4 separate regions of the Homo sapiens genome follow, and all the other regions are reported to be linked to region 1. Evidence: microRNA targets listed by miRTarBase, many of them from high-throughput screens and not tested one by one. Region 1 holds a microRNA gene; each other region holds the end of a gene's coding sequence.
What was found. Region 1 holds the annotated microRNA hsa-miR-215-5p (AUGACCUAUGAAUUGACAGAC, at 2,381-2,401, shown strand). A microRNA usually pairs through its seed, bases 2 to 8, with sites in the 3' UTR of a target mRNA and lowers its output. Matches are read on the target gene's strand: a 7mer-m8 pairs with bases 2 to 8, a 7mer-A1 pairs with bases 2 to 7 and ends in A, and an 8mer does both.

Region 2: the mRNA of KCNMB4 is a reported target of hsa-miR-215-5p. Seed matches in the 3' UTR shown: 7mer-m8 at 1,894-1,900.
Region 3: the mRNA of STX7 is a reported target of hsa-miR-215-5p. Seed matches in the 3' UTR shown: 8mer at 5,538-5,545, 7mer-A1 at 4,627-4,633 and 7mer-m8 at 4,314-4,320.
Region 4: miRTarBase lists SLC68A1 as a target of hsa-miR-215-5p. The part of its 3' UTR that is shown has no 7-base or 8-base seed match.

The regions. Positions count from the first base shown.
Region 1 is chr1:220,112,133-220,120,316 of GRCh38, reverse strand. It overlaps MIR215 (microRNA 215), which reads left to right and starts at 2,355; the gene lies at 2,355-2,464. It overlaps IARS2 (isoleucyl-tRNA synthetase 2, mitochondrial), which reads right to left. Exons shown (of 23, transcript NM_018060.4): 12 at 5,843-6,003. It overlaps MIR194-1 (microRNA 194-1), which reads left to right and starts at 2,076; the gene lies at 2,076-2,160. LOC124904515 (a long non-coding RNA gene) reads left to right here and starts at 1,204. Exons shown (of 2, transcript XR_007066883.1): 1 at 1,204-1,332; 2 at 2,434-2,575. It also overlaps LOC105373475. RefSeq lists an enhancer at 5,475-5,644.
Region 2 is chr12:70,429,630-70,437,813 of GRCh38, forward strand. It overlaps KCNMB4 (potassium calcium-activated channel subfamily M regulatory beta subunit 4), which reads left to right. Exons shown (of 3, transcript NM_014505.6): 3 at 856-4,663. The coding sequence ends at 1,024. Among named protein-coding and RNA genes, the nearest start is that of PTPRB-AS1, 34 kb to the right of the region's middle.
Region 3 is chr6:132,454,328-132,462,511 of GRCh38, forward strand. STX7 (syntaxin 7) reads right to left here. Exons shown (of 10, transcript NM_003569.3): 10 at 1-6,523. The coding sequence ends at 6,431. Among named protein-coding and RNA genes, the nearest start is that of STX7, 55 kb to the right of the region's middle.
Region 4 is chr10:102,474,664-102,482,847 of GRCh38, forward strand. It overlaps SLC68A1 (solute carrier family 68 member 1), which reads left to right. Exons shown (of 10, transcript NM_024789.4): 10 at 1,059-2,382. The coding sequence ends at 1,321. It overlaps ACTR1A (actin related protein 1A), which reads right to left. Exons shown (of 11, transcript NM_005736.4): 8 at 7,338-7,512; 9 at 7,174-7,235; 10 at 6,469-6,509; 11 at 4,566-6,302. The coding sequence ends at 6,200. Among named protein-coding and RNA genes, the nearest start is that of SLC68A1, 17 kb to the left of the region's middle.

The DNA of each region.
Region 1 (8,184 bases):
TGAGGTGGGGAGTTCGAGACCAGCCTGACCTACATGAAGAAACCCCATCTCTACTAAATATACAAAAATCAGCCAGGCATAGTGGCGCAAGCCTGTAATCCCAGCTACTTGGGAGGCTGAAGAAGGAGAATCGCTTGAAGCTGGGAGGCAGAGGTTGCAGTTAGCCAAGATCCCACCATTGCACTCCAGCCTGGGGAACAAGAGCAAGACTCCAACTCAAAAAAAAAAAAAAAAGTGTGACAGAGAGCTTTGAAAACAAAAATTGCAATAAAAATAAACAGACATATAACCCACAAACTTGAGCTAGGTATAATGATGATAAAAACAAAGATAAACTTAATGTTCAAACAAAATCTAAAAAGATAATTTGAAAAAAGTATATAAAGTTAACTGTGAACAAGTGCTCAAAAGACACTCATTATAGAGATGTGACAAACATCTAACAAAATCCAAACACTGGATAAGTTATGTTCATTTGATTTTCATACACAAGGAACTAGGCAACCATTAAGAGCTAAGCTGACATTTTTAACAGGTACATATTCATTCTTCTATAACTAATTAAATTACATCTTCTTTTGTATATCATTATGTTCCTTTATAAACAACTGTATTGGACATCTTATATACATATCCTCACACAAGAGGTATTAGTCCTATTTCCTTTGGGTAAATACTTAGAAGTGGAATTTTTTTATAATGAAACCAAGATAATACTTAAAAGATTTCTTAAATAATTTTCTGTTTCCTAAAAAAATTTTTAAACAATTTTCTAACTATTTCCTTGTGATATTTAATATTCTTCAGAAAAAAATGCAGGAAAATTCCTAATTTGTCTGAAATTTAAGAATTCTACCTTCATTTCTTTAACATTGTATACTTAACACAAACTCATAGTTAACCTATAACCCAAAGATCAGTATAAACGACTGCTGATAAAAGTGGGTGAAACCACTTACCAGTATGTAATCTATATGCTTCCATCTTAATGCTTTACTTCATAAAGCAATAAATCCATCATAAAACCTTGTACTTTACTCAAAGGCCTTATCTCAACACATGCATTACGTGTCCCTTCTTAGGTTTCAATCAGTGAAAATCCACTAGGTAGCATGAGCAACTATGACATCAGCCAATCATTCTGAACTTCGATATCAACCGGAATGAGGCTTATTTAGCGTGTTATGGACATTAAGCAGCATTAAGATTACTAAAGCAACAAAGAAACGACTGCTGTCATCCCACTGTCTTCTGTGTTTTGCCTTTATAAGCAAAAATATTGAAGATTATTAAGACAACTTTTCTTCTGTAACTTACTGGAAGAAGAATGAGGTAAGAGGCTAAATGTTTCACATTTGTTTACTAAATTTAATTCTAGAACAATGTGAAATTTGGAAGGGGAAATTCTATTTTTAGTTTAATCCTAGATTTATGTTTTAAAGCTGACAGAAAACCATTTTGAAGAAATTTTTCTTTATTTAATGAACATAAATTTTTTGAACAAAAGGTTTATTATTGTTAACTGAGAAAAAATTTGAGGTAGCTAAAGTTAACACTCAAATTATATTGGAAATTCCTTGGCTATTTTTACTAAATTTCTCATAATTTCCAGAAGTTAGGGGCTAAGTTTCACTATGTTAACTATAGCATTAATAGCATGAAAGTGATTATAACTGTTTGAAATGATGAAAGAAATTTAACCAACTTCTTTTCCTTCCCAGGTAGCCAGTGTTTCTACATTTTATCTTTTTTATGCTAAAAATTATTTCTTCTGTTTTTATTGACTAGTAACAGATTTCAACCCAAATTCTAATGGCATTATCTCACAGATTCAAAAAATGACCAATGACAGTAAAGTCAGAAATGGAATTATTTCTTGATAAAATACAAATATGATCTAAAATGCAAATGACACTATTAATTCAAATCAAAATAAAACATCAGCGTTTCAAATCTACCAGTCCCTAAACTTATTTAGAACATGAATAAATCGAGACTTTCTTCTGTGAAACAAGTATACTTAGAGATATCGTACAGCTCCCATGATGAGCAAAAGGAATCTCCTTATATGTTTAATGGTGTTATCAAGTGTAACAGCAACTCCATGTGGACTGTGTACCAATTTCCAGTGGAGATGCTGTTACTTTTGATGGTTACCAACTTGCTACAATATAAAGGTATAATAAAGAAAGACAGAAAATTGTGGTCACTTGGACTCTCATTTGATTCCAGCAGAAAAAAAGATTTTCAGCCTGTTTTATAAAATTAACAAATGATTAAGAATTAATATCAATTTTCTTAAATTCAAGTTTTGTAACACCAAAAAGATCCAATAATGGAAGAGGATTAAAGTCATCATTCAGAAATGGTATACAGGAAAATGACCTATGAATTGACAGACAATATAGCTGAGTTTGTCTGTCATTTCTTTAGGCCAATATTCTGTATGACTGTGCTACTTCAATATCAGAAATCGACTAACACCACGCAACCAACGCAATGGCAGGTACACAGAAGATAATCTGTAACACTACCATGTAAATGTATTGAGTAAATAAAACATAAATATACCTAATGAAAACTTGTGTTTTTCTGACAAAGCTCATATTTATTTAACCTAACTTACTGACCAGTCAACCTATGTACCATTTAATTATCAGGATGTATCAATTAAACCAGTTTGCTATATTTACTAATACATACATATGATCCACCTCAGAGTCCAGAGGGCTATTCCACCAAGGAATCCCCACCCACCTCAATCACTTCAGTGAAATTCCCTAGACATCTTGCTCTCTAAATAGTGAAAAGAAGAGTAGCCGGGCACAGTGGCTCACGCCTGTAATCCCAGCACTTTGGGAGGCTGAGGCGGGCGGATCACTTGAGGTCGGGAGTTTGAGACCAGCCTGACCAACATGGAGAAACCCCGTCTCTACTAAAAAATATATATATATAAAATTAGCCGGGCGTGGTGGCACATGCCTCTAATCCCAACTACTCAGGAGGCTGAGGCAGGAGAATCACTTGAACCTGGGAGGCGGAGATTGCAGTGAGCTGAGATCGTGCCACTACACTCCAGCCTAGGAAACAAGAGTGAAACTCCATCTCAAAAAAAAAAAAAAAAAAAAAAAAGAAGAGGAGACAATGACATGGCTTATAAAACTTTCCAAAAAAAAAAAAAACTTTCCAGTGTGAAATTTTAAACAAATGTTTGTGGAAACTCGTCTCAGGTATAATCACTTTAATTCTTTTTCTTTTAAACTAAGTCTGAGGCTGGGCATGGTAGCTCATGCCTGTAATCTCAGCACTCTGGGAGGCAGAGGTGGATGGATCCTTTGTGGCCAGGAGTTCGAGACCAGCCTCGTCAACGTGGCAAGAGCCCATCTCTACTAAAAATACAAGAATTAGCCAAGTCAGTGGCGCGTGCCTGTAGTCCCAGCTACTCAGGAGGCTGAGGAGGGAGAATCACTTGAACCTGGGAGGTGGAGGTTGTAGTGAGCCAAGATCACATCACTGCACTCCAGCCTGGGTGACAGAGTGAGACTGTATCAAAAATAAAATAAAATAATCTGAACTGGACAGAATTTACATTAATTCTTAATGTAAGTATTAAGATATTAGTAGTTTACATCTGACCAAGCTCTGTAAGAACACCACAGCAACAATATTTAGATTATTCCTAAAGTCTTACCTCAGATCCAACTTATAATAATATTGAAATAGCTTTCCAATGACTTTCCAGTCTCTAGCCTCTACTTTCTTTTCCTAAAACATACTCTTACTCCTCAAGTCTACTTAAAAGTTTAAACTTCTTAATAGCATAATTTAGAAAAAATTCCATTCACCAAATTAAAAAAAATTGCTCAAAGAAAATGAAAATCTGGAATGTGTTCCTAAAAGGAAGAATTAACATTCCCCTCTCCACATCTGTGAAAAACAGCAACAACACTCAAAGCCTCCCTAATATTACTAGAAGATAAACTAGCTAGACTATTATCTCATTAAAAACAGGGGCCATGTCAGTCTTGTTCACTGTAGCAACTAGCAGTTCCTAGCACTGACACGTACTAAGTGCTTGACAATGTGTTCTGTTTTGTTTCGTTCTGAAGAGACAGTGTCTTGCTCTGTCATCCAGGCTGGAGTGCATTGGCATGATCATAGCTCACTATAACCTCAAACTCCTGGACTTGAGCGATCCTCTCGCCTTAGCCTCCCAAGTCGCTGGGACTACAGGCCCACACTACCACACCAGCTAATTTTTAAATTTTTCTGTAGAGATGGGGTCTCACTGTAATCTTGAACAGCTGGCTTCAAGCAATCCTGCCGCCTTGGCCTCCCAAAGTGCTGGGATTACAGGCATGAGCCACTGTGCCCACATAACAATGTTTCTTAAGTGAATACATGAATAGCTCATCATCTATGGAATACTGTGCTTTACACCAAGTAGTTTGCATTTATTATTTAGTATTCATAACAGTCTACCTGCAACCATTGCTTTTCCTATTTTATAGAGGAGCCAGAGGCTAAGTAAATTCCTCAGTCTCACACACAGTGAATGGCAAAGCCTGGGTTCAAATTCAGTTGCCATTCTCCAAAGCTCACAGATTTCCAAGCAACTTCTCTTTCGAAAAGCACAAAAGGGAGCTGTTCGGGATAAAAGAATTATTCTAAGACACAATTATGATAGTGGCTGTAAAACTTAACAAATTTACTATAAATCACTTATAATAAATGAATTTTTCTTTTTTAATTTTTTTGAGATAGAGTCTCACTCTGTCACCCAGGCTGGAGTCCAGTGGCACGATCTTGGCTCACTGCAACCTCTGCCTCCCAGGTTCAAGCAGTTCTCTGCCTGAGCCTTCGGAGTAGCTGAGATTACAGGCCCGCGCCACCATGCCTGGCTAATTTTTGTATTTTCGGTAGAGATGGAGTTTCACCATCTTGGCCAGGCTGGTCTTGAACTCCTGACCTCATGATACACCAGCCTCGGCCTCCCAAAGGGCTGGGATTACAGGCGTGAGCCACCGCACCTGGCCATGAATTTTATAGTATGTAAAGTATGCTTTAATAAAGCTTAAGAATGAGGCTGATCTATGTGTAGTGATTTGGAATAAATCATAACACATAAAGTGAAAAAAATCTAGGCACAGAGCAGAAGATAGAGATACTCTCTTTTGTATAAACATATGTATGTGCTGACAGAAGAATTCATTTTTTCTGGAAAGATTCAGAAACAGCTGTAAACAATGACTGCCTCAAAAAAAGGTTCTGGATACCTGGAGTAGGAAAAAGCCTACTTTTCAGTGTACAAGCTTTTCTACTATGAATTGTTCACTATGTCCATCTATTACCTTTCCAACTCAAAAAAAAAAAAAGGGAAAAACTGGGAATATAATCATCAGTGTAATCATGTGCATTTAACTACAATTTCTTAAATTTTAAGTATCTACACAATTACATAATCCCATTTCCACTGAAAAGGAAAGCAGACTCAGAATGTGAGAGTGATTCTCTTCATTCCTTTAGAAAAAATACATTTCAGGCTCCCCTGCTAAACACTGTCCATCTTTGGATCCATGATACCTTAATACAGCCCAATAAATTCTCATAGAAAAAAAGTCAGAGACTTTACTTCTAAGTATCAATATTTAAGAAAATCTAGTTAATATTTTAACTGTATGATAGAATTGTTTTGAACTTATATTTTAGTCCCCCAAAAGACTATTTTAGCATATTTTATTTAACATATATAAACGGTTCTTAATCATCCACATTATTTTTCAATTTTTGAAGAAAAAATATTTCACTTTAAAACACTAAAAAATTTTAGAAAGCATTCTACCTGTTGATCAAGTATTCATCCTTGGTCTTATGATGAAACACAGGAATTGGAACACCCCAAACTCTTTGCCTTGATATACACCAATATGGCCGCCTGTCCATCATTTCAACCATGCCATTCAGTGCTGATCCAGGAATAAATTTCACCTTTTTTAACAATTCCTGCAATTAATTCATAAATCAAGTCTTGTGAGAGAAAGCAGAACAAGTATTCTAGAACAGTCAATTTTCCAAATGCATTTGTTTCTTTTGGATGTTTGTAGCCATTCACATACCTCCCTTACCCTCCCCTCAAAAAAACAACTAAAGAACTAAAAGATTTCAGAGCAAATAAGGCAAAGTAAAAATGGAGCCGCGAAGAACTTAATAAATAATATCGGGAGCAGTGATAATATCAGGAGCATTGTTGCATTTTTTAACAATGTTACAAAAGATTTCATACCAATTTCTAATTTACACCAACCCTAGATCAAAACTGGTAATAAAAGCTTTCATAGAACTATTATACTTCACTAAACTATAGTTAAAATCAATTCAAACTTGATTTCCACCATTTTTTAAAATGCTTAAAAAATAAATTACTATCGTAGACTGCCAAAAAAAGATTGCGATATACCTAATTTTACATAATATAGTTTACAACACAGAAAACACTTTCTCAAAATAAGCCCAAGTATGTGGTTCAAACCTGTAATCCCAGCATTTTGGTAGGCTGAGGTGGGAGGATCACTTGAGCCCAAGAGTTCAAGGTTGCAGTGAGCTATGAGCATGGCAGTGCACTCCAACCTGGGCGACAGAGCAAGAGCCTGTCTCTAAAATAAATCTCTCTCTCTCTCTATATATATATATCTATCGACAAATGGCTAACAGTTACTTCCTCTCAAGAAAGCTCCCTTCCTCCATTCCCAAAATAAGGTTGAAAACTGCTACCATTTGATTTAATTTGTCAACTAGCAAAAGATTAACTGTATAGCAAAAATGTTTACTAATAGTCTCCAAAAAGGTCAAAATGTTAACTTCATTTTAAAAAATCTTTCTATCCATTAATAAAAGCATTTTTACATTTTCAAAGAAGGTTTAAATGGTTTCCTCACTCACCGTAACTACCAGAAGTCCCCTCCCACAAAGCTCTCTGTAGCACCACCTATTGGCAGAATGGCAAAATCTCTACAAATCAATTTGATTAATACCATACTTGGTTTAAAAGTCTAAGAAATGTGAATATTGAATAGATATTTGATTTTGCTAAGGAATAACTATTACTTTTTAAAGGTGGTGATAATGGCATGGGAATTATGCTTTAAAGAGTTTGGCCGAGCATGGTGGCTCACGTCTGTAATCCCAGCACTTTGGGAGGCTGAGGAGGGCGGATCACCCGAGCTCAGGAGTTCAAGACCAGCCTGGCCAACATGGAGAAACTCCGTCTCTACCAAAAATACAAAAAAATTAGCCGGGCATGGTGGTGCATGCCTATAATTCCAGCTAATCAGAAGGCTTAGGCAGGGAATTGCTTGAACCCAGGAGGTGGAGGCTGCTGTGAGCCAAGATCACATCACTGCACTCCAGCCTGGGCAACAAGAGTGAAACTCCATCTCAAGAAAATAAATAAATAAATACAGAGTTTATCTTTGGCTGACACCTGTAATTACAGCACTCTGAGAGGCCGAAGCAGGCAGACTGCTTGAGCTCAGGAGTTCGACACCAACCGGGGCAACTTGACAAAACCCTATCTCTAGAAAAAATACAAAAATTAGCCAGATGTGGTGGCACAGGCCTGTAGTCCCAGTTACTCAGGAGGCTGACGTGGGAGGATAGGTTGAGTCCAGGAGGTGGAGGTTGCAGTGAGCTGAGATCACACCACTGCACTCCAGCCTGGGTGACAGAGCAAGACCCTGTTTCAAAAAAAAAAAAAAAAAAAAAGAGCTTATCTTTCAAATATATGTGCTAAAATATCGCCGGGACAATATATAATATGGAAGAAATAGTGCCTGGAATTTGCTTTAAAATAATCCAATTGTTAAGGGGTAAAAAGTAGGTGGTCGGGCCGGGCGCGGTGGCTCACGCCTGTAATCCCAGCACTTTGGGAGGCCGAGGCGGGTGGATCATGAGGTCAGGAGATCGAGACCATCCTGGCTAACAAGGTGAAACCCCGTCTCTACTAAAAATACAAAAAATTAGCCGGGCGCGGTGGCGGGCGCCTGTAGTCCCAGCTACTCGGGAGGCTGAGGCAGGAGAATGGCGTGAACCCGGGAAGCGGAGCTTGCAGTGAGCCGAGATTGCGCCACTGCAGTCCGCAGTCCGACCTGGGCGACAGAGCGAGACTCCGTCTCAAAAAAAAAAAAA
Region 2 (8,184 bases), not on the chromosome of region 1:
GCGCTCCAGCCTAGGTGACAGAGTGAGACTCCATCTCAAAAAAAAAAAAAAAAAAGAAAAAAGTTAGATTTCCAGGATCTCTTTCTAATGGCCGAAGATTAGAGATCATGGCTTGTGGAGCACATCTCATCTTCACTTTCTGTGAATGGGACCAATGCAGGAATTGAAAAATAGAGCCTCACATTGACAAGACAGAAATCTATTGCTAGGACTTTGCAAGATTTATTAAGAAAGTGGTCAGTGTTTTAAAATGACGGCTAATTTCACCCAGAAGCATGGAAAAAGGCACTCATTCAGCCATTGTCTGCTTATTAATAAAAACCTGTAGCTTACATAGTGAAGCTGAGTTGCCCTGAGAATTACACCAGCTGTCTTTCTGACTAAATTCAAGCAGTGGCTTTAACTGACCTTTTTTTTTTTTTATCTGAATTAAGATCATTTGGGCCACACCTATGAGCTGAGGTCTAGTTCAGATTTGTTGGAGAATGCTCACCCATCAGTAATTTTTTGACTGATTCAAGCCCCTTGACCAATGGACATTAGAGGATGAATGAGAAAGTGGAATACATTAAGTAACTTAGAATGAAGAAAAATCATAGCATAAGAGATACATTTTTGACACTTTGTAACATGTAAATTATAATTAATACATAAATTTGCACCAATTACTTGACTCAAGAGCTCAAAACTTTCTGTAATGGGTTTGAAGCACAAAAATACAGTGTTTATAGTCAGAGTGCAGCCTTTACTTTCAATAATGGTTATGGAAAGCAAGTTTGGCTTTAGGTTGTAAAGAGTTTTTCAGTGCCAAGGCATTTGACTGCCCTTTCTTTCTTATTCTCCATTGTCTTGCAGACCAGATGATGTGCTTCTGCATCGCACTCATGATGAGATTGTCCTCCTGCATTGCTTCCTCTGGCCCCTGGTGACATTTGTGGTGGGCGTTCTCATTGTGGTCCTGACCATCTGTGCCAAGAGCTTGGCGGTCAAGGCGGAAGCCATGAAGAAGCGCAAGTTCTCTTAAAGGGGAAGGAGGCTTGTAGAAAGCAAAGTACAGAAGCTGTACTCATCGGCACGCGTCCACCTGCGGAACCTGTGTTTCCTGGCGCAGGAGATGGACAGGGCCACGACAGGGCTCTGAGAGGCTCATCCCTCAGTGGCAACAGAAACAGGCACAACTGGAAGACTTGGAACCTCAAAGCTTGTATTCCATCTGCTGTAGCAATGGCTAAAGGGTCAAGATCTTAGCTGTATGGAGTAACTATTTCAGAAAACCCTATAAGAAGTTCATTTTCTTTCAAAAGTAACAGTATATTATTTGTACAGTGTAGTATACAAACCATTATGATTTATGCTACTTAAAAATATTAAAATAGAGTGGTCTGTGTTATTTTCTATTTCCTTTTTTATGCTTAGAACACCAGGGTTTAAAAAAAAAAAAAAGGTGAGGACATCTGGGTCTCATTTGCTTCTGCTAGGTTAAACTTTTACTTGACAACAAGGATTCCTGCTGAAGTCTGAACCTTACTGTGTAACCCTCAGTTTCCACTATTAAAGAGTATCTTTTGACGTCTGCTTGGAAAATGAATAGTATACTGGTAACTCAGTCTCCAGTCACCTCTGTGTCTCTTAAGCAAGAGATTCTAAAAGATTGGGAAAACATATCCTCCAACACCTGCCTTTGCCTAACCATTATTTTTCACCAGATTACTTCTTAAGAGAGGGAGGTGATTCTGAAGAAGGCTTCTATCTCAAAAAGCACTGGGCTTCCTTATTCATCTGTTCTTGTTGTTTTTGACGGAGTTAAAAAAGTTTGTGTGCAATACAATATACATGATGTGAAGGACACTCTTCAGCTTAGTGAAACGCTGTTTTCATTTTTTTTTTTTTTTGTAGGTCAGAAAAAAACAACAAAATCAGTTCAAGCATTTTTTTTTCTTTGTCCTTGCCTTGATGTTATGAGTATTAAAACCAGGAGGATTGCTGCCATTGTGCAGTTTGCTTAGACAAACCTGGAGATGCAACCCAGCTCACATCATTGCTACTGATGAGCTTTCTGTGCCTTTATCAAAAGTTGATTGAGAAGACCATATTTCTTTGTATCTTTTTATAAACTCAAATTCCAAGTATCAAATCGCAGGTCTCAGTGAACATCAAACCTATTTACTACATAGAATCAAACCTTTGTTTAGGTGAGATGTACATCGTTAGTGGAGGAAAAACTGACAACCTAATTTCATTTGTTTTCTTCTGATACTCTTCAGACATGCCTCTATTAGAATAAAGGTAAACTGGAATTTAAAGACAAGTTCCCCTCAGTTATTTCCATGGAGCTGTAATATGTATATATGGAGTGATGGTTTCCTGACCTTTAGTCCACATACCAATGTTTTCTTTTTTCTTTTTTTTTTTTTTTTTTGAGATGGTGTCTCACTCTGTTGCCAGGCTGGAGTGCAGTGGCACGATCTCGGCTCACTACAGTCTCCACCTCCTGGGTTCAAGTCATTCCTCTGCCTCAGCCTCCCGAGTAGCTGGGACTACAGGCACGCACCACCACGCCTGGCTAATTTTTTTGTATTTTTAGTAGAGACGGGGTTTCACCGTGTTAGCCAGGATGGTCTCAATCTCCTGACCTTGTGATCTGCCCACTTCACCTCCCAAAGTGCTGGGATTACAGGCCAATGTTTTCTTAATCTTAGAATGTGAATAACTGAAAATCATAGTCTGTGGAAAGGTGTTGAATTGAGTATAATCTTCTTCTGTTTATTTTTGTGTTTTGTTTTTTAACAGATGGGTATCTTGCTATGTTGCCCAGGATGGAGTGCAGTAGCTATTCACAGGTATGATCATAGCACACTGCAGCCTCAAGCTCCTGGGCTCAAGCGATCCCCCTCCCTCAGCCTCCCAAGTATCTGGGGTTACTGGTGTGCACCACCGTGCTTGGCTCCAATAATTTTTTTTCTAATTCAAAAGTTACAGTTTCACTGTGAAAAAGGCCTTGAACACACTATTTATGACATCTTTTGAGGCAGCTCCAGTGCCTTGACTTCAATCCCAGTTTCCGGTTGCAGCATCCTTGTTGTCTTAGCAACACAGTGAACTATTCTGAAGCATAGAGTAACACGAAACTGGGAGTCCGAGAAATAATCATCTCTGCATCACATTATGGGAGACGAAGTCTGCTTTATCCATTTTATCTTTATTCAGTTGTCTATGATTAATTGATTACAGAGTAGTAGATTAGAATAGTGCATGGATATACATTTGTGTTGAAAAAAGGGGAAGTTGATATATATCAATCTTAGTTTTCATTTATCAGTTTGATATTCATGCATTTACACTAAACGCTTCCATTTATCCCGAAAAAGTATATGCAACTGTATTCTGTAGGTTGATTTTTGGAAAAGGGGAGAAGCACACTGAATTCATAAGGTCACATGTAGTCTTAAGGTCTTACTTGCTTACAGCCAATTAAATTTGAAGCACCTTATTTATACTTGTTAAAGGTAAAACCCAAAAGAACAAGCAGAGGACATTTTAAGGTCATAAAAGGTAAATAAGCTTACCTTCTTAATGTTTTCATTCTCTTTTTGTATAAATCAGAAAATGATCTAAACTGCTGTAACAAAGAGACCCCAAAATATGATGGCTCATGTAAGATAATTTATTTTTTTCTCACATAGCAATCCAGAAGTGGCTTCATTTCACAAGGTATTCAAGGGATATAGGAGTCATCTACCTTGTTAGTTCTCTTAATACCCAAGGGTATTGTTCTTTCCATGGTCAAAGCTGGCTCAAGACTTCCTAGCCTGTGAAAAAAGAAGAAGGTGGAGCAAGCCATTTCCTTTTTAGGAAATTACAGCCATCACTTCTGCCCACCGTCCATTCATGAATACTTACTATATAGCTATACCTAGCTTCAAGAAAGCCTGGGACGTGTCTCTAACTAGATGGACATGTGCCCTACTAAAACTCCAGGGAAAGGGTTCTATTACTAAAGCTAAAAAGAGGGGAATGAATACTAGAGTTAAAGACAAAAATGATAGCAGCCAATGGCCCATGCCGTGATAATCTGCTGAGCAGGCATGATGGAGATCCCTTGCCCAGCAGAAAGTGTTCCTTGGTGAAATCATGAATCTGCTATCTAGGAGAAACTCCCTTGTCCATTGTCTTCTGTGGCCACTAGTTTGACCTCTAGGAAAGTCTTGCTCGTCAGCTTCTGTGGCCCCGTCTGAAACTTTTGAGGGACATCGCAGCTTTTGCAGCCCCTGCTTGCTGGTGCAGACTTTTAGACCTAGATTGCCTTAGAGACTGAAAAATATACGCTTTTATAGGCCGGGGTTTTAGTTCATTTGACTGTAATAAAGACGTCAATGCCGTTTTTAATGTTTGACTGCTGACATCTTTCAAGACTCACCTTTCCCTTCTCCCTTATGCTGCACATCTGGGCAAGCTGATGGAAGCATGGGTGCCTCCTCCTTTGGCCCCAGCAGGAAGTTCAAATCACGCAAGCCCTGGCATGCATGCAGGAAGCTTCACCCCAGCCTCACACTCTAAGACGGATAAAAGCCAAACCAATTAAGCCGTTTCTCGACCCTCCTGGGAGCCTGCCCTATCTCCCTGGAAAGTCTCAGTATGTGAGTAATAAACCTTTTTATACCCATTTCTTGTGTGTGTGGCATTATCAGTCTCAGCATCCGAACTGAATTCGTGGTAATTTTCTATGAATTTTGGGAGGAGGAAGTTCATCTGACATCTTAAGGGTCATCATAGCATTGGTGACATCATTTTATCAAAAATACTAGAGGTTTCTGGTTCATTTGCTTTCAGTCAGTTCATGTGAAAGTAGCCACAGCCAAAGAGCTGTTCTAGTTATAGTTCTTTAAGCCAGCAATGTGTTATTTATTAGTCACTGTGCCTGGCCCATACCTCTGTCCCTCAAATTAATGGCAGCCATCTTGAAGTCTTCTCCAACAATGAGTTTAAGTGGTGATGCAACATTCTTCATCTGATCTTTTCTGCCGAAATGACTCCCATTGTCTGACCAGTAACACAATGGAGACTTTTTTTTTTTTTTTTTTTTGAGACGGAGTCTTGCTCTGTCACTCAGGCTGGAATGCAGTGGCGTAATCTTGGCTCACTGCAACCCCTGCCTCCCGGTTCAAGCAATTTTCTTGCCTCAGCCTCCTGAATAACTTAGATTACAGGCTTCTGCTGGCTAATTTTTGTATTTTTTAGTAAAGACAGGGTTTCACTATGTTGGCCAGGTTGATCGTGAACTCCTGACCTTTGGTGATCCCCCCATCTCGGCGTCCCAAAGTGCTGAGATTACAGGCGTGAGCCTCTGCACCCAGCCACAGTGGTGACTATTGAACAAAACTGAATAATAGTCACATCTCCTGCTCCCTTGAATGCAGAAGCAATTGTACTTCAGGGCATGGTGTTATCTACTTGCAAACTTTTTATTTTTTGATCTTACAGCAACTACTTTTGATAGTACCTCACTAAAAACATCAGCAAGGAGCCACCAATATACATTAACCACTCTGGTTCTAACTGCTTTCCCCATAGCTAGTCTGCCTTTCAAATTGTTGCTGGTGTCAGTTTTACCTAGTGATTGGTCAAAACATAACAAGGGTCTCTAGTTTTTCATCCTGCAATATCTGTTTCCACACTGCCGGTTGCCTGGCAACACAATACCAGAGCCACATATTTTAGATTTTTGTTATGATGGCACTTTTCCATTCCTACGTATCAGTCAGCTAGAGCTGCATAACAAATAGCAAAGACTGGGTGGCTTAAACAACCAAAATTTGTTTTTTAACAGTTCTGAGGGCCAAAAGTTCAAGGTCAAAGTGTTGGCAAGTTTGGTTTCTCCTGAGGCCTCTCTCCTTGGCTTGCAGATGGCTCCCTTCTTGCTGTGTCCTTACACTAGGCACTTGTGCCCCTAATGTCTCCCTGTGTGTTCCAGTGTTCTCTTATAAGGACACCAGTCTTATAAGATTAGGGCCCCTCTCTATGATTTCATTTAACCTTAATTATCTCCTGAAAGGCCCTATCTTCCAATATAGTTACATTGGGGCTTTGGCCTTCAACCTATAAATTTTGGGGGTCTACAACTTAGTCCATAATATTCTGGTACTGAATTTAAAACTATTAGGGTGTCGGCTAAGCCACTGTAACAGAGAAACCCCCAAATACTGTAGTTCCAATAAGATAATTTATTTTCTTTCTTGTAGCCATCAGGAGGTAGCCCATGAAATTGTCCAGGGACTTATATTTATTCTACCATTATTTTTACTCTATTATTATTTTATATTATTATTATACTTATTCTACCATTTATTCTGCCATTCCCTAGAGTGTCCTCTTCATAGTGGTCAACCTGTGGGATGGAGAAGAGAAAAGTAAAGGGCAAGCACATACATTTGAATAAAATGAGATAGAAGTTGCACACATCAAGTTTGTATATTCTTTTGGTAAGAAATTAACTGCAGAGGAACCTCTTGCTGAGCAGCCATGCCTTCTAAAACCTGGGACAGAGATTTTATTATTAAAATGAGGAAAGGGAGAATGAACGGGGGGGAGGATTATCAGTTCCTTCCTACATTCCTCTTCTATACATCTTACATTTTGTATTGAGTATGAGAAGAGACCTGAAATTTAGATGATTCTTTACATTTTTATTTATCTAAAATTGAAGTTTACCTAATTTAGTTTAATTTAATTATTTTACTGATTTAAATTAATCAGAATTTTCTTAAAATTCAGTAAAAGAAAAAAACGTAAGGGAAGCTTTGTTGCTTTGCAAAATAGGGAGATATTTCAGGAAGGTAAGGGGAGAGGTCTATCCTACAGTATGGAGTACAGAAGTGGGACTTAGAGATAGCCAAGAGAGTTTGAAATATTCAAAGAATATATACAATAGAATCTGTAGCCTTTTTTAAAAAAAAAATTAGAATTTCCATCTCTCTGAATGTATTCCAGTTGTAAAAAAAAAATGTATTGAGTGTCCCATCATATGGAAGTTTTTAAAATTGTAGGAAATAAAATATTCAGAAGGCTACACAAGGTATTAAAAAAGGGGACAGGGATATAATAGCTTACTAGCTTATTAGAATGAATTTGGTTCCTTATGAGGGATAATCTAGAGAAAAGAGGCATAGAATAAGATCTTTGGAACCAAACAGTCTGAGTTTGAATCCTGGCTCTCCCTTTTGGCATCTGTGTGATCTTGGGCAAGCTACCTAATTTCTATTACAGCTTTGTTATCTCAACTGTAAAATGAGGCTGATATTGATATATCATTGGAGAGGACTAAATGAGACCATGCAAAATGTGTACTTGGCACAGTGCCTGATCCACAAATACTGATGATGATGATGATGATGATGGTGGTGGTGGTGGTGGTGATGATGGTGATAATAACAGTGATGATGATGGTAGTATAGCATTAGTGCAGCAAAAAGGAAAAATGGACTCAAAACTAATTTTTCCTAAAAATTTGTGCTTTTATTTATCAGATGCTTCTAACTTAGTCCCCACCAGTCTAAGACTAGAACAATATTGGGATTTTCCTTTTCAGAAGTTCTATCATTGGCAAGTTGTTTTTATTTCCAGAACTCCAACTCAGAAGAAATCACCTCTGAATTCATTGTCTATTTAATAAAGTCAAGATTCTTCAAATTCTCCATTTTATTCAGTATTAAATAACTTTCAAAATATGGCTATCTTGAAAGTCTCCACTTCCTCATACTTAGCAATTTCCAGCATTATTTAAAAAAAAAATGTGTCTTTTCTTTGATGCAAAGCAATTACTGGGATACTTTCTTCTCAGAGAGGAAATGCAAAGAACATGATCCTTTCTGCCTGGTCCCTGTACAACATTGAAAACAACTGGGGTAATTTTTTATTAATGCATTTGTTAAAAAGATGCAACATTTCTATCTCCAAGAAGTTTGAAATATATAAAATGTATTCTGTGTCTCATTATCAGGTCTCTGACTCAGAGTAACTTTTACAAAGGTTTTTATCTTTTTTTCCCCTCTATGCTTCCCAAAGCATGACTAATGAGGCTGATGAATGTCATCATAGGAGCGCCGCGTTTCTGGCAGGTAGAAAAAGATCACATTAGGGCTTGGACTTCCAAGTGACATCTAGAAGCAATGAGAAATTCAAACAAGA
Region 3 (8,184 bases), not on the chromosome of region 1:
GAGGGATCCCTGTGCTAGAAAAAGTTCTGTGTGGAAACGTTCTCTATCTTAGCTATACCAGTGTCAGTATCCTGGGTATGATATTGTATGACAGTTTTGAAAGATGTTCACTGTGTGGGAAACAAAGTGAAAGGTACACGAAAGAGGTCTCTGTATTATTTCTTACAACAGCATGTGAATCTAGTTTCTCAAAAGTTTAGTTAAAAATACTAGCATTAAACATATTTTATACTTTATAAAGAATGGGCTCTATTTCAAATGTCCATACCATTCCAAAGGAAAGTATTGGTCACATACTCCATTCTAGATTTAAAGAAAATTTAAAACAACATAGAAAATTTCTAAATGACTAAGAAAAATGTTTGACCACAGATCAGGAAAAGACATAAGGACAATAGGGTAGCCCTAATTTTGAACAAAAAATGTTTGTTTATTGCCTCCAAGATAGAACATGAATTTCTTGAACAAGAAATGTTTATTGCCTCCAAGATAGAACTAACGTGAATGATATATAACTAAGGTTATCTTACTATTAGCAAATTTTGGTATATACCCACTGCAAAATAGTACTTAAATGTTAAAACTATGATAACCTTTATGAGGCTGAACATTAAATCTGGCCCTGGGAAGAGGTTGGATGTGGCCTGAGGCACATTGAAAATGCCTCGAAATGAACTCAAAACGACCACAGTACCTAGGTTTGAGATAAGAATGAAATAAAATATATTCCCCATTAAAATCTTGCTTATTTTTAGAATCATTACTGACAGAAGGATCAGCTTTGATCTGAGAGCTTTTCACCGTCAAGTTTTTAGCTATACAAGTTATTAAAAAAGCAAAAGCTTGCATCTTACTTGGATTAAAAACCTAATTTCTAGAAAACAGGTTCTCTTCTTTCTGGTCTGAGTTTAACATTTCAGATCTCCCATTAAACAACTGATCAAAAAACTTTCAGAGGGCATTAAAAAGTGAAACTAGGTATCAGAAAAATCTTAGTCGAGGCTAAATAACTGCATTTATAAGCTTTCTACCAATGCTATTAGGTGTTGGAGTTAGTAACTACTGCCTAACGATACTTACAGTAAACACTTAAAAATTTGTACTTTGGGTTGGCCAAAGTGGGAATTAATGCCCTTTCAAGTTTATTTAAAGATTCAATTCAGTTCTAGAAAACTCCCTCGTCAACAAGTAGAGGTGTTGTGCGTGTAACGACTGGACAGGAAATCTGGTTTTGCCTTCCACCACTTACATTTTAAGCATAAATGCCATCACTACACAAAACCTACGGGAATCCCACTCTAAGCAATTAAGTGACCAACCTCTTAAAAACTTGCCAGAAGCTACAGTGTCTACAAAAACCTATTTAGTGTGTTATTTAGCTCTATTTCTGCATTTAAAATTAGGATTATTTGGAGAAAAATATTACATAATATTCATGTTAACCAAATGATTACAAAAACAAAGAATTAAAATTGGTGTATTGATATGGTATTTGAATAATGAGAAAATGGGCCAATAGGAAGATTTTCTTCTTTATTCCTATTTGATTTAAAAGAAAAAGATTTGCCAAGGGATGGGTAGGGTTAAATTAAAAACATTTTAAGAAACATTTCTTTATATGGAGCATACTTACTGTTTTTGCTTTGAGTGCATTCTGATGAAATATAGATTCCAAATTCCCCTTGGATCTCACCCTTCTGTCTAGTGCTTTGCCCTCTATTTGGGGCAGTAATTCTATACATATCCTGTAAATGTCTGTCCTGATGATCAGGATGCCCAAGCTCTGAATCCAACTGCTGCCACCAAGAGAACGGCTCCTTTTTGGAGCCATTACACACAGATCATCACTCAAATCAGTAGTTTCTCTTTAGAAAACTAGCAATTTTCTGGTAGTCTGTCAATTAAGAAAAGAAAATGAAATTCAGTTACTTAGTAAGGAAAACTGGATAAACAGGAGGCTGGTCCAAACGGAGATTTATATTTAGACATTCCCTTTCTTCCTTGCCTCATTCCTTTCACACAGCTATTTCCCTTCTTTTAACACACCAAGTTCTTTTTATATGCCAAATAACAAAACATAAACTCCCTGAGGGCAGGAAGCTTATTCTTTTGGTTCACTCTTAGAACACTATGCCCAGGCATGTAGTAGCCTGGCAAAAAGCCGGCCCCAAATAAGTGCCAAATTAAGTATTTATTAAGCAACTACTACGGGAGGGAAGGAAGAAGGGAAGGAAGGAAGGAAACTGTGTTAAGTCCTGGGGCCCCAGAAGCTTAGTATATGTATTTTTTATTTTGGTTGGAAAAAAATGACTTGCTTACCATCTAGAGCCAATGCTTCTAAATTTTTCCATCAAAGAATCTTTAATGAAAGTGAGGAAAATTCTGAGGCTTCCACTTCACGTGGTTTGAACTGTACATCTCAGTGTTTGTTTCACAATTATGCTAGACTGTCAACTCACTTCTCTTTCTAGAATGTCCTCTGCAGTGCAGGTAGACCAGAAACCACACTTCCCACAAACTCCTTCTGTCTCTGGTTCTAAGTTGAGAGTTGACCATGAGAAAAGGAGAGACCATCTTTCCTCAGAGGCCACTGCAGACAGAAGTGTAGGCGGGCAGAGGACATGAGTTTCACAGCAGTTTCAAAATCTCTTGCAAGGCACTGGCTTTGGAGCTATTAACAGCTGACAGCTGGGGACAGCTCCCTGAGACACACTGTCAGTGCTGCACGCCAACAGCACAGCCTTCTGGATGTTCTCAAGAGTCACAGCAGTGCCTGGGCCAGCTCCTGAGATCCACCCACTTTGGGGCCGCAGACACCTTCCTCACCCACCCTTTTGATGTCTAATTCCCTATGTTAAAACACTTTACACTTATAATCCATCAAGTGGTTTCTGTTTTTCTAACTGAATTGTTAAAATATGCAAAATTCACATTAAAGAAGTTTCCTACCTATCTTGTGACCTCAGTGAATGAGATGCTGCTTTATCCAATCTACTGACTTTGGAAAATCCAGCTGAAATGAGGAAAGATAATCGTGCATGTCTGGCAACCAGGTAATTTCTTTCCTATCTTTCATGTCACAGTATTTTGAGGACACAAATTCCTAAATACTCAGAAAAAAATGGTTTTATCTTAATTGATTTATAAATTATGTTAGGGTAGTTGTTAAACAGAATTTTGTCAAAGAAGCAGTACACTGTAACACTTTCAGGCTCCCATTGGTTTAAAATTTGATAAGTGTATTTCTTTGCTGACAAGTCAAACTGTTCAAATGTTATGGAGGACTAAAAAGGCCTGGGATTCACAGGCTCATTTTTTGTTTTAACTGAATCATGAAAATACACAACTTTTTTTTTTCCAGGAAAGACAGATGTTATTTACCACCAATGAATTTTTATCATATTTAAATGAACTTGAAAATGTCATTCAACTCAAATCCCTCAATCAACTTACTTCAGCCCATTCTGAAACTTCATATTGCAGCAAACCAGCCATGTGAAAGAAATAAATTCAATTTTGACTTTCAAAAAAAATAAATGCTGCATAAGTTACCCTTGTGGACCTTAGCTATTAAGGTGGACAATGACTTTATTTTCTTTACGTAAGTTTTATATTTTATTATGACATTCATTTTTTCTACATGAAGACACAAATAAAAATTATACCAACTACATAAACTATTTTGTACTTTCCTTGCTAAACCACAGATGTATTTCATGGAAAGAGGGGCCTTTAAAGGCACTTATTTATCATTGTAGGTGTGTCTAAACAATTGATATTCAAAAACACAACTTTTTGTGTACAAAATTTTACAATTTTTAACAAAAGCAGTGAAGACACTAAATAACCCAGTGGCGACCTCTTCAAAGTGCAGTGTCCTTGGTCACCAATGCAGATGCTACTGGGGCAGCCAGCGGGCTCAGAGGGTCCAACTCCAGACACTGCATCCATGGCTGTCCTAGACTGAGTTGCACTTGTAAAAGAGATGGTCCCACACCTACTAAAAAAACAAGCTACTCTAGTATCAATATGACATCACTCTTTTACCATCAATCATATTGCAAAACCATAGTATTTAACGACCAATAAACAGCCAAATACCTAATGCCACATTGTCGTTCAATTTACCTGGCTGGTTAATATCAGTCTGTGTTTGAGTATTTCTTTTGAGCACACAAAAACAAATGTATAGTCACTTGATGAGGAAATTCTTCACTTTGACTCAAATGGATTCACCATGCTGTCAGTTATGAAAACAACTCTAATTTTAATCTCCACAGGGCAACCTTCACTTTTCACAGCAGTTCTAAAACTGACCTACAGAAAAGTTCAAGATTTTTTAAAAAATTTGGCTACCATACTATGTTTCTTATTTAATTTTCTCTAATCAATACTACTCTTACGTTCCAAATATTTCATGGGAAATTTTTCCCTCAAACTTAATATGTTTCTTAAACAAATTGAAGCCACTAAAGTTCCTGTTTAAACCACTGATAACTGCCCCAGTTAAAATAATAATAATTTAAAATGATTACACTTCAAATAAAGGTACTAAAATCACGCCCCCCAAATTTGTAAGCGCTTTTGTTGTTATTGGGTACTCACTGTGAATAGAAGTAAATGTACTTGACCTGTATGAGAATAAACATTTTATCAAGTACAGCAAAAAAAACGGAACTGATTGTGAAAGCCATGGGGATGGGACTTTAAAACAGCGGTAAGACGCTGGTTTATCACCAGAAACCTCATGTGCCTCTGTGCACTTGAAGTAAAGACCACATTTGAGCAGGCCTGGTGGGCTGGCACAGGCCTCAGAACAGGTGCTGTTTGTGTGAATTCTCCTCCCTGCATTGTCCATTCTGTTCTAGGGCAGTCTGATTCTGGCAACAGGAGTCTCTAAGTTCCAATCACTCACTCACAAAAGAGTTTTCTGTAATCCCTTTTGTGGAAAAAAATGGAGTTTTTCTGATATGCAAAGCAACTTCTACCAGTCTGACAAAGTAGGTAAAATCGATGACACCCTAAAATAAAAACCTGGAGTGAACTGGTGCTCCAGAAAGATGCTGAATGGCCACAGTGCATGTGGTGATGTCTCCATGCTGAGGTTTCAGGCAGCACAGCACTAAGTATCAGGTGACCTGTGGTCCCACCAGAGCATAGTCCTCATGAAATAGGCCTAACCAGATACCTTTTAACTCATCTTTATTTTGGTTGCAAAGATGTGGTTTACTTAGCTACTTACTATTTGTTCCCATTTGAAGTCTCAGAGCTTGCCAAGTTAAACACCGCCTTCAGTACCGAGCTGCTATACAAGAACATTATAAAATACAAAGTATAAACTAAGATAATCCTCTTTACAGAATTCAGATTAGTGCATTAAAACAACATTGATTTAAAAAGGGAAGTGAGATAACTGGCAAACCTCCAATTGCTTTTTTAATGAAGGATGACACAAAATGGCACGCAAGGTAAACACTAAATTTTGTCAGGTGCTCAAAAACAGTTAATTGTGGGAAAGTTACTTTCCAAAAGTAATTTTGACCTAAAAATATTAACCATTATTCTATAAGACATAAGGGAAGGTAAATAATGGCCCACAAAACCAGATGATATGGTTAAGATAACTAGTTTAGTGGAATAACAAACTGGGGTCTTAAGAATCCAAACGCAATAGGTATTGGTATTGGTTGTTCATACTCTTCTTCCAAATTATGTTAAACATTTTTAGTAACTACACTTTCCCCCGTAAACATCAGACTTAAATAGACCATATGTAAAAACAACCTATCCTTAGTAATTTTACTAGGCAATCTACAGCAAAAGCTTAATATATACACAGAAAGAGTATCAAATAAACTAGAAAAGTATTCACCGACTTCAGGGTAAAAAAGATCTTAAAAGAAAACCAACAAAAAAATGAAAGACACTTTGTGCTGTTGTGAACCAGAAAAATACAACCCATGTATAGACCTTAATTATTTTACATTATTGAGAATATTTTCCCTGCTGAAGCAAATCAAAATTAAATTTGAGAATTTTAATTGAAGTAACACACATCTAGGTGTGTCACAGTGACAGGGAGATGCAAACAGAATACACACACCTTTAAATTTACGAATTCCCAAAACTAAGTCAAGCAGGGTAAATAAATTATAAATGAAAGGCATATGCAATGTGGGCAAAAACTTAACAACTATTAAATTGAAGACCAAGGGAGTTATGTCAGCAGTGACATTTAGAAAATCTTTCAGTATTAGAAAATATCAGATTTAATCCAAAGGAACCACCCCAACCCCCCCAATAAAAATAACAAAGTATGGGAACCATCCTTTATACAATAGCTTTAAAATAATAATTAAAAAAACATGATTACAGGAATCTTCCTACATAATTTAGACAATGTAGTGCGACAGTGTGCTCCTTTATAACTTCAGTGGTTCAATCCCCATATGATGAGACTGATAATCGCAACTCCAATGACAAGGATAAGAATGATGATGCACAGGGTTTTTCTGGATTTGCGCTGCAGACGCAAAAAACAAAACAAAACAAAAAAACATGTTTACAGATTTAGTGGAGTACCTCTACAGCAACTAAAAATAATTTGGTTCATTTCTAGAGTAAAATCAGTAGTAGTATATTGCCCTCAAATTTTTGACTGTGTTTTTTTGTTCCTCAAAAATCTCTTTAATACATATGGCACTATTCTTTCAAAAAAATTCTTGAACTAATGCTACAATTAAGGGAGCAATTTTTCAACTTTCATTGGTAATTTTTCTAAGGGTGTGGCTGACCTTAAGAAAGAAGACACCACTAAATAAGTTACTGACTTAAACAAGAGACTGAGGTTACCTATGAATAAAAATAAAGAACAGCTTACGAGCTTAAACATTCTTTACCTTTTATTAAAGTTTTTCTTAAAAATGAGTTCTCTGAAGATATCAGTAAGTACAAATTGGCAACTTTTCTTCACATATATTTCTTTTCTTTTTTTTTTGAGATGGAGTCTTGCTCTGTCACCCAGGCTGGAGTGCAGTGGCACAATCTTGGCTCACTGCAATCTCTACCTACCAGGTTCAAGAGATTCTCCTGCCTCAGCCTCCCAAGTAGCTGGGATTACAGGCGCGTGCCACCACACCCAGCTAATTTTTTTTTTGTATTTTTAGTAGAGACGGAGTTTCACCATGTTGGCCAGGATGGTCCCATTCTCCTCACCTCATGATCTGCCCACTTCGGCCTCCCACAGTGCTGGGATTACAGGCGTGAGCCACCACGCCCAGCCCCTCACACATATTTCTTGTTTCCAAAATACAATGATTTTGGAATGAGTTTCCAAAATCATTCTCATTCTTTAATATTAATGGGAAACTACATTCAAAATCTCAACAAACAAAACCACAGAGCAAACAAAATCATAATGCTGTCATTGAAAACCGAATGGTTAAGAATTTTGTTCCGTTCTTCATTCCTGGTTCAGTTGTAGATTTCTTTAATGGCGTTTGTACCTCACATCAACATGCAGGAATCCTTTTTCTTACAAAGTAGAAAAATTTGTAAATTTACTTTGTGTCAAGTAGAAGTACCAAAATATTTATAAAAAGATACATTTCTGAGTCTGAAATTACACTGAAAACCATAAATAGTTTGAATATTCCACATATTCATCTAATTTTTCCAGTGAATACTCCTTACGTATCAAACACAATTTCTCTAAAATTTCAATACCATGCATAAATATTTTTCCCAGACTCCAGTTGGTTACCACAAACACACATGTAATGTACCTGTGAGTCATCACGGGTATCCCACAATGGTGTGTTTGTTGCCTGGGGTACTCCCCCTAGCGTGGGGTAATGAGACCCTGGGGCAATGTGGTGATAAGTGAACTTGAATTTCTCACCTTCCTTATTCTTAGGGTTCACCCAAACATATCAAGGCTTCCAAACAGAACTATTGGAAAGCTGCCTCTTTTCTCAGCACTTGTGCTGCATGGCCATCTCGTCCCGCTTCGGGAGCTGGGGGAATTAAGCCTAGGGGCAGCTTCCAGTCCTGGGGTGTAGCTTGGGACATGTGCTTTTTCCTGTAGGCTTGGCCTTCCACAAGGAAGAGGAAGAGTAAAACTTGGCAGAATATCCACATTTCCCCCAAATCCAAAAGCAAAATAAAATACCATGTGAACCTAGT
Region 4 (8,184 bases), not on the chromosome of region 1:
TTTTGAGATAGGGTCTCCCTGTCACCCAGGCTGGAGTGCAGTGGCACGATCTTGGCTCACTGCAGCCTCGACCTCCCAGGTTCAAGTGAGCCTGCCACCTAGCCTCCCAAGTAGTTGGGACCACAGGCGTATGCCACCATGCCTGGGTAACTTTTTGTATTTTATGTAGAGATGGGGTTTTGCCAGGTTGCCCAGGCTGGTCTCAAACTCCTGAGCTCAGGTGATCCACCCACCTTGGCCTCCCAAAGTGCTGGGATTACAGGCATGAGCCACCACGCCCGGCCAGGGAGGGTTTTAAACAGGGAAGTGACGTAGTGTGATTGACTTTTTAACAAAATTCACTCTGGGCTGGGTGAGGTGGCTCACACCTGTAATCCCAGCACTTTGGGAGGCTGAGGAGGGCAGATCACCTGAGGTCAGGAGTTTGAGACCAGCCTGGTCAACATATAGTGAAACCCCCGCCTCTACTAAAAAATACAAAAATTAGCTGGGTGTGGTGGCGCATGCCTGTAGCCCCAGCTATTTGGGAAGCTGAGGCAGGAGAATCGCTTGAAACTGGGAGGCCGAGGTTGCAGTGAGTGGAGATCGTGCTACTTCACTCCAGCCTAGGTGACAGAGCGAGACTCCCTCTTTCCAAAAAAAAAAAAGTTCACTCTGGCTGCCATATGGACAGCAGATCATAGGGAGGCCAGAATGGGGACAGCAGGGACATCTTTGGGAGACTGGCAGAGGCCGTGGAGACTTGGGCCAGGGTGGTGGCAGGTGGGATACGTTTTGGAGTTGGGGGGAGATGAAGGATTGGGTGTTGGGGAGTGATGGCGTGAAACCAACCAGGGAACTGAGGAGGACTTTGAGGTTTTGGGCCTGAGTTATTGGGTGGATGGTGGTGCCCGTCACTGAGATGGGAAGAGTAGGAGAGGAGTGGGTTTGGAGGAATCAGGAGTTGTGGTCTGGACACGTCCATGTGGTGTCTGAGATGTCACACCATAGACTTGGAGGGCACCAAGGCTTGGAGGACAGTGGGCTGACCATGGTCTTTCTGTGCTCTCTTGTCCTAGGTCATGACCTCTTCCAGCAGTCCCTCATAACCCCTGTGGGGAGTGCCCATCCCTGGCCAGAGCCCCCAGCTCCAGCCCCTGCACAGGCCCCGACGCTCCGCCAGGGCTGCTTCTACCTGCTGGTGCTGGTGCCCATCACCTGTGCTCTGCTGCAGCTCTTCACCTGGTCCCAGTTCACGCTGCATGGGAGACGCCTGCACATGGTCAAGGCCCAGCGCCAGAACCTGTCACAGGCCCAAACCCTGGATGTTAAGATGGTGTGAGAGCTGTGGCAAGGTCACCCCACTGAGGATGCTGCTGGCAGCCTGGGGAAGGAGCCAGTTTTTTTTGGTTTTTTTTTTAAGGATTTCATAGTTTTTTTTTTTTTTTTTTGGAGCTGTTGCCCAAAAAAATGGATCTGTTGCAGTGGTGCAATCTGGGCTCACTGAAACCACCACCCAGGTTCAAGCAATTATCCTGCCTCAGCCTCCCGAGTAGGTGGGATTATAGGAGCGTGCCACCATGCCCGGCTACTTTTTGTATTTTTAGTAGAGACAGGGTTTCATCATGTTGGCCAGGCTAGTCTCAAACCCCTGACCTTAGGTGATCAGCCCGCCTCGGCCTCCCAGAGTGCTGGGATTACAGGCGTGAGCCACTGTGGCCAACCTAATTTTTGTATTATTTAGTAGAGACAGGGTTTCACCACATTGGCCAGGCTGGTCTCGAACTCCTGACCTCAAGTGATCTGCCTGCCTTGGTCTCCCAAAGTGCTGGGAATACAGGCATGAGCCACCGCACTCGGCCAGGAGCTAGTTTTACCAGCACCCTGCTCCACTGCCTTCCTCTAGTGCAGCCTGGAAGACATGGCAGCGGGTAGCTCCTGGGGCTGAGCCAGAAGCATCACTGCAGTGAAAGTCTCTGCTTACCTGTCTGGCTCAGCTTGGGCAAGGGCTGGGCCATATGTGCTCAGGGACGTGCTTCTCTTGTAAGGCAGGAGGACAGAAGAGGACCAAGAAGGGAGGGGGCTGCCCTGTGGTGCACACAGGCCTGCCATGGGGCGTGGGAGCCCATCCCGCTGCCTGACTGGAGCTGGCCGCTGTGGTGGACTCAGGAACCACTTTTAATACTGCAACTGCTCCCTTTTGCCCAGTCAGGGAAAGCTGACTGTAAGTCCCACCTCCCACTCCGTCCACCCTTCTAGTGGTTTCTCTGAGAGGTTTCTCTGCTTCAGCTGTGCTTGAAGTGGCATGCCTCCTCTGCTGCAGGGCTCCCCCACCCCCACACGGCCTCTAAAGATGTTTATTTCCTTATAGACTGATTAAAGTCAGCCATTCTTTTTCCTCAAGTCTGTGCTGTGTGAGTGAGTGGTGGGTTGCTGGGGTTGAGAACCAGGATTCCTTACTGACTAGAAAAAGCCCCTGAGAGCATTTTTCTGAATAAGAGTGGTAGGTAGGCCGGGCGCAGTGGCTCATGCCTGTAATCCCAGCACTTTGGGAAGCCGAGGTGGGTGGATCACCTGAGGTCTGGAGTTTGAGACCAGCCTGAGCCAACATGGCAAAACCCCATCTCTACTAAAAATACAAAAATTAGCCAGGTGTAGTGGTGTGTGCCTGTAATCCCAGCTACTTGGGAGGCTGGGGCAGGAGAATCGCTTGAACCCAGGAGGAGGAGGTTGCATTGATCGCGCCACTGCATGCACTCCAACCTGGGCGACAGAATGAGACTCCATCTCAAAGAAAAAAAAAACCCACCTTGGTGGGTTACCAAGATGCCAGGGAGAAAAACATAGATTGGTAACTGCATAGGCACTCGGGCCCAAAATGACCATTAGGCCTCAGTGCATTTCCCATGTATCACTGCTGGACATGGTAGTCAAAGAGAGAGGAGCCTCTTTTAGGCCCGAGGTTCTCAGCCTTGGGGTCCCCTGGGGAACTTAAAAAATACTGACATCTCAGTTCCATTCCTTGGGATTCTGACTTAATGTGTCTGGGGTATGGCCTGGGCAGTAGGATTTTGAACATCTCTGTAGGTGATTTTATCATGCAGCTGGCACTGAAAACCATGACTCTCAGCCACCATTTCTCAACCTTGGCACTAGCACTGGAGATATTTGGGGCCAGATTGTTCTCTGTTGTAGACATTTAGCACCCCCCACCCCACCCCACACACACACCAGTTGCGACAAACAAATACATCTCCAGGCATTGCCAGATGTGTCCTGGGAGGCAAAATTGGTTCCAATTGGGAACCACTGCTCTAGGCCAATGGTTTTTTACAGGCTGCATGGTGATTAAAAATGTAGGCTGTAGGTTCTATGGCCTGGGTTTACATTCGGGATTAAGAAAGGCCAGCGCTGGGCACGGTGGCTCACACCTGTAATCCCAGCACTTTGGGAGGCCGAGGCAGGCAGATCACCTGAGGTCAGAAGTTCGAGACTAGCTTGGCCAACATGGTCAAACCCCATCTTTATTAAAAATATGAAAATTAGCTGGGCACAGTGGCAGGCACCTGTAATCCCAGATACTTGGGAGGCTGAGGCAGGAGAATTGCTTGAACCCAGGAGGCAGAGGTTGCAGTGAGCGGAGATTGAGATTGTGCCTCTGTACTCTAGCCTGGTGACAAAGTGAGACATGATCTCAAAAAAAAAAAAAAAAAAAAAAAAAGGCAGAACTTTGGAAAATTGCTTAATCTTTCTGTGGCTCCAAATCCTTATCTGTAAAATGGACAACAAAAGCACGTATATTTTGTAAGGTTATTGGGAAGATTAAATAGTTACCATTTGGCAAAGACCTGGCAATTTTCCTCCCAAGTGCAGGTTTTAAACGGAGAAGTGATTAATCAGGATATCTGAGTATGGGCCCTGGAAACTGCACTGTAATAAGCTCCTGGCCTTCTTCTTTTTTTTTTTTTTTTTTTTGAGACAGAGTCTTACTCTGTCGCCCAGGCTGGTGCGATCTCAGCTCACTGCAACCTCTACTGCCCGGGTTCAAGCGATTCTCCTGCGTCAGCCTCCTGAGTAGCTGGGATTACAGGCGCCTGCCACCACGCCCGGCTAATTTTTGTAGTTTTTAGTAGAGACGGGATCTCACCATCTTGGCCAGGCTGGTCTTGAACTCCTGACCTTATGATGCACTTGCCTTGGCCTCCCAAAGTGCTGGGATTACAGGTGTGGCGTGAGCCACCGTGCCCGGCCAAGCTCCTGGCCTTCTTATTCACTTGACAGTTTTGAGAATCTTTGATTTCAGGGATGTTGAGAGCTGCTCCTGTCATCTGGAGTTGAGTCTCACCCATGGGCTACAGTGTACACAGGAGTGGGACCTTCTGTTCTTGAACTTAGGCTGTGGTGTGATCACCCTTTTCTCTGCATCCACCTGACAGGCTGGGACTTGGGCTATGCTCTGGACAAGGCTGGCTGGTGCAATGATGCCCTCTAGAGGATGGATCAGGCCCAGTCACCACCTCAGATTCAGTGCCTGCTGCTCTTCCTCTTTCCACTTGGCCCTGGTGACAGACAGATAGAGGCCCAGCTGACGTGTCTATCGGAACGACTTTATTTCAGTACACTGGGCCCCACCAGGCAATGTGGTTTGTGCGAGGCTGTGCGAGGGACAGGCTTGGGCTAAGAGAAGGGAGGTGAGTTGGTTAAGCGCACTGCAGTCCGCGGGGCGCTACGTTGCTTTCACACATACCTGCTGCTGTGGCCCACACCTGGCAGGGGCCTTTGGTCATAGGACGGCGTGGGGGAGAATACTGTGTGAAGTCTGGGATTGGGGTGGGTCTTGGTGTCACAGGTGAGGGTGCCGGTGAAGACAGGCTGGCCCCAGCTTTGCACCATCTAGGCTGAAGGCCTTTGGACCACTCCTAGGAGTCAGGCCTGGCTCCATTAGCTCCTGGCACTCTGGTCTGGCCCACTCCCTCCTTAACCAAGCAGGTCCAAGGTCAAGAATGGCACAAGATCAGCCCAGAGGGGGCCTTCCCACCTCTACAACCTAGTCCCCTGGTCAGCTACAGTGGCAAAAGGCAACTTGGTAAATTGCAGCTTTCTCCAGTCTTAAGGGCACTGGCTCTCCAACACCCCTCCCTTGCTTAGGGGCCTCTGCCAAAGAAAAATTTTACCTCCTGTTTCAGAAAATCTAACCAGCAACCAGCCTGTTGATTCCAGGGCAGTGAGCAAGAGGAAAAGGGAGAAAGAGCCTGGTGGGAGTGTCTTTGAGTGTAGCTTCCAATCTCAAATGGTCCTGGAACCTGTGGACACTGTCAGCTCACCATCAGCTGGGAGAGGTGGGGCCCTGGAGGCTAAGCTTAGGTGCTGTAAACATTAGTGTAGCAAGGCAGGAGGCAGCAAGCTCCCTCTCTCCAGCCCCTAACTGAACAAACACTTCAATAAATAAAACGGTTTGAAGATGGCATTGCAACAAGAACAGATGGAAAGCGAGGTCCTGGAACCAGCAGGTGCCTTAAACTCTCCCAAGGCCCCCGAAAGGGGACTGGGCTGGGAACATTAACTCTGCAGCCATTCAGAGTGAGGACTGCTCCTGCCCTCCTCCAGTGGCCGGTGTGGTCCTGTTCCCTGGTGAACATGAGGGCCTCCTGCTCTCTCCTGACTCCAGTCTCTGTAATAGCTCTTGGGGTGCTTTTCCAGCCTCCCAAACCAAAATGGCAACAAAACCAGACAGAACTCAACCCCAGTCCCAGTCCTCAGTGTGCAGTCAGGAGGCATCGATAGTGGAGGCAGCAGCTGCCTGGGGCCTCAGGGCACCCTGGGGGTGGGGGTGAGGGTGGGGCCAGCCCAGCCTAGGATGGTCAGCAGCAAGGTCTCCCGGGGGATGGCTTACCTCCCTCTGTCTCCCTGTGGTAGTAAACGGAGTCCCCCACAGCCAGCCAGAGGCCACCTGAGGAGGGAGCACAGCCTCTGCCAGCGCTCTTCCCTGTCAGGAGCCAGTTAGTGGTCAACCCCAGGCCTCAGGCCATCACCACTGCAGGTAGTTCATCGTCCTTTCTGGGCCCAGGGTCCCAGGGCCACACGGCACTCGCATGTGCACACACACTCATATCCACACACGCACTCACACACAGGCAGTTCCTCGCAAACACTCCGACTCAAGAAAGCGAGTTTTAAAGTGGAGTTAACTTCAGAGAGAGGTGAAGATGATGTCCCGACATTAGAAGGTTTTTCTGTGGATGGATCGGGCACCGTCTTCCTCATATTCCTTTTTGGAGACCCACATCTTCTTAAAGGTGTCCAGGGAGGCAAGGATGGAGCCCCTGGAGGGAGGAAACCCAGAGGAACTGTGTGAGAGAGAAGTGGCTGTGTGTGGAGCCTACCAGTCCCCTGGGGCCAAACCAAATCAGGCTTTTCTTTAGAGGGTGCTGAGGGGTTATCAGTGCCATCACTTCCTGTTCTGTTCTTACTCCTGGAAGAGCTACTCACCCAATCCACGTGGAATACAGTCTCTCCTGAGGTGCAGATATCTGCAAAGGTGGGGGAAAGAGGAATCTGAGACTTCCAGCCCTCCCGCTCCCTTTCCCTACAATGCTCCTCTTTCTGCCCATGGCAGGGGATACATTTTACACAAGCCTGAAGCTCTGGCCTCTCTGGAGGGCACTGTGGCCAGCCTGCCACTCATCTGGGGAAGCAGGTTTCCAGTCCCCACAGGTCCCAGGGAAGCTGGGACTATTGGGGGGGGCAGGGAGAAGCAGACTCCATGGCAAGAACTGTACTCCTTCCTTTAGGATCCCCGCTCTCCTCAGACAGCCAACCTCCTTCACCTATCACTAAGGTGTCAGACTGTGTGACAGGGGAGCCACCTGGGCAGGGGGCACAGCAACAGTAAGTCAGTCTCCTCTTAAGATTATAGTTTCCCTGAAAGATCACGCAGGGGGCCCTCTACCTAGTACCCTGCCTCATCTGGGTATTAGAACTGCCTGCCTTTGGTGTGAAGAGGGAGAATGAGAACTCAGCCTCCCTGTGGCTGACCTAGACCTCAGGGTCAGTGTACAGGCTGGGAACCTGGCGCTGCTTGTAGAGCCATGGCTGCTTGAAGAGCTTGGGCAAAGCTAGAGGGAAGCTACGCCAGGTGGCACTCTGTCCATGGAAGCCTAGTTCCACCCAGGCCAGGCCCCACCATGCTCCTACCCTGATCTTCACATCTTTTGGAGCTAGTTTCTTCACTTCACTCAGGAGCCTGTCACCAAAACCTGAATGGGCAAAGAGGAGAACTTCAAGTCAATTCTCAGGGTGCCTGGAGCCAGCAGGAGCTGAACACTTCCAGGGGAAGGGCTCCAAGAGAAGAGACAAACCTTTGAACAGGGTAGAGCCTCCTGAGAGGACAATGTTAGAGAAAAGCGTGCGCCGCAGGTCCATGTCTGACTTCTGAATGGCGAACACCAGGACCTCGTGGATGCCTTCACTCTCCTCTCCAATCAAATCTGGCCTGAAGAGCAACTCAGGGGCCCGGAATCGGGAAGGACCAATCTGCAGGTAGGAGGGCCAGCTGAAGAGGTCGGAGCTGGGACCAAGGTCCCTTTGGGAGTGGGAATGGAAGACGCCCCTCTGCACGTCACTTAGTAACTGGGTGGCTATGAAGGCCAGGCTCAAGACAGACTCTACATGTCAAGGGCTTAAAGGAACAAAGATAGGCCTCCTGGAAACTAGTGAGGGGAGGCTCCTATATTTCCTTCTCGCTCTGGCATTTTCCAGCCAAGAGGTCTTTGGCATCAGTACATGGATTTATTTGCTCATGGAAACGTCTTCCTAGCAATGGGGGTTCAAGGGAGTGGTAACTCACCCTACACTGCACCCAGGTGTGGTGAAGGATGGCACTAACCATCCCACTTCCTAATCTCATACTGATGTGGGACAATCCCTTAGGAGCTTCCTCCCCTCTAGCGGGAGGGAGCAAAGTTCTGGCTGCCTCCTCTGCAGGAGACAGGGCCACTCATGCTCAGGAGCTCTGCTGCTCCAGAGAGAGGGTGTAAGGCTGGGGTGTCCAGTCTTTTGGCTTCCCTGGGCCACATTGGAAGAAGAATTGTCTTGGGCCACACATAATATACACTAACACTAATGACAGCTGCTGAGCTAAAAAAAAAAATTGCAAAAGAATCTCATAATGTTTTAAGAAAGTTTACGACTTTGTGTTGGGCCTTA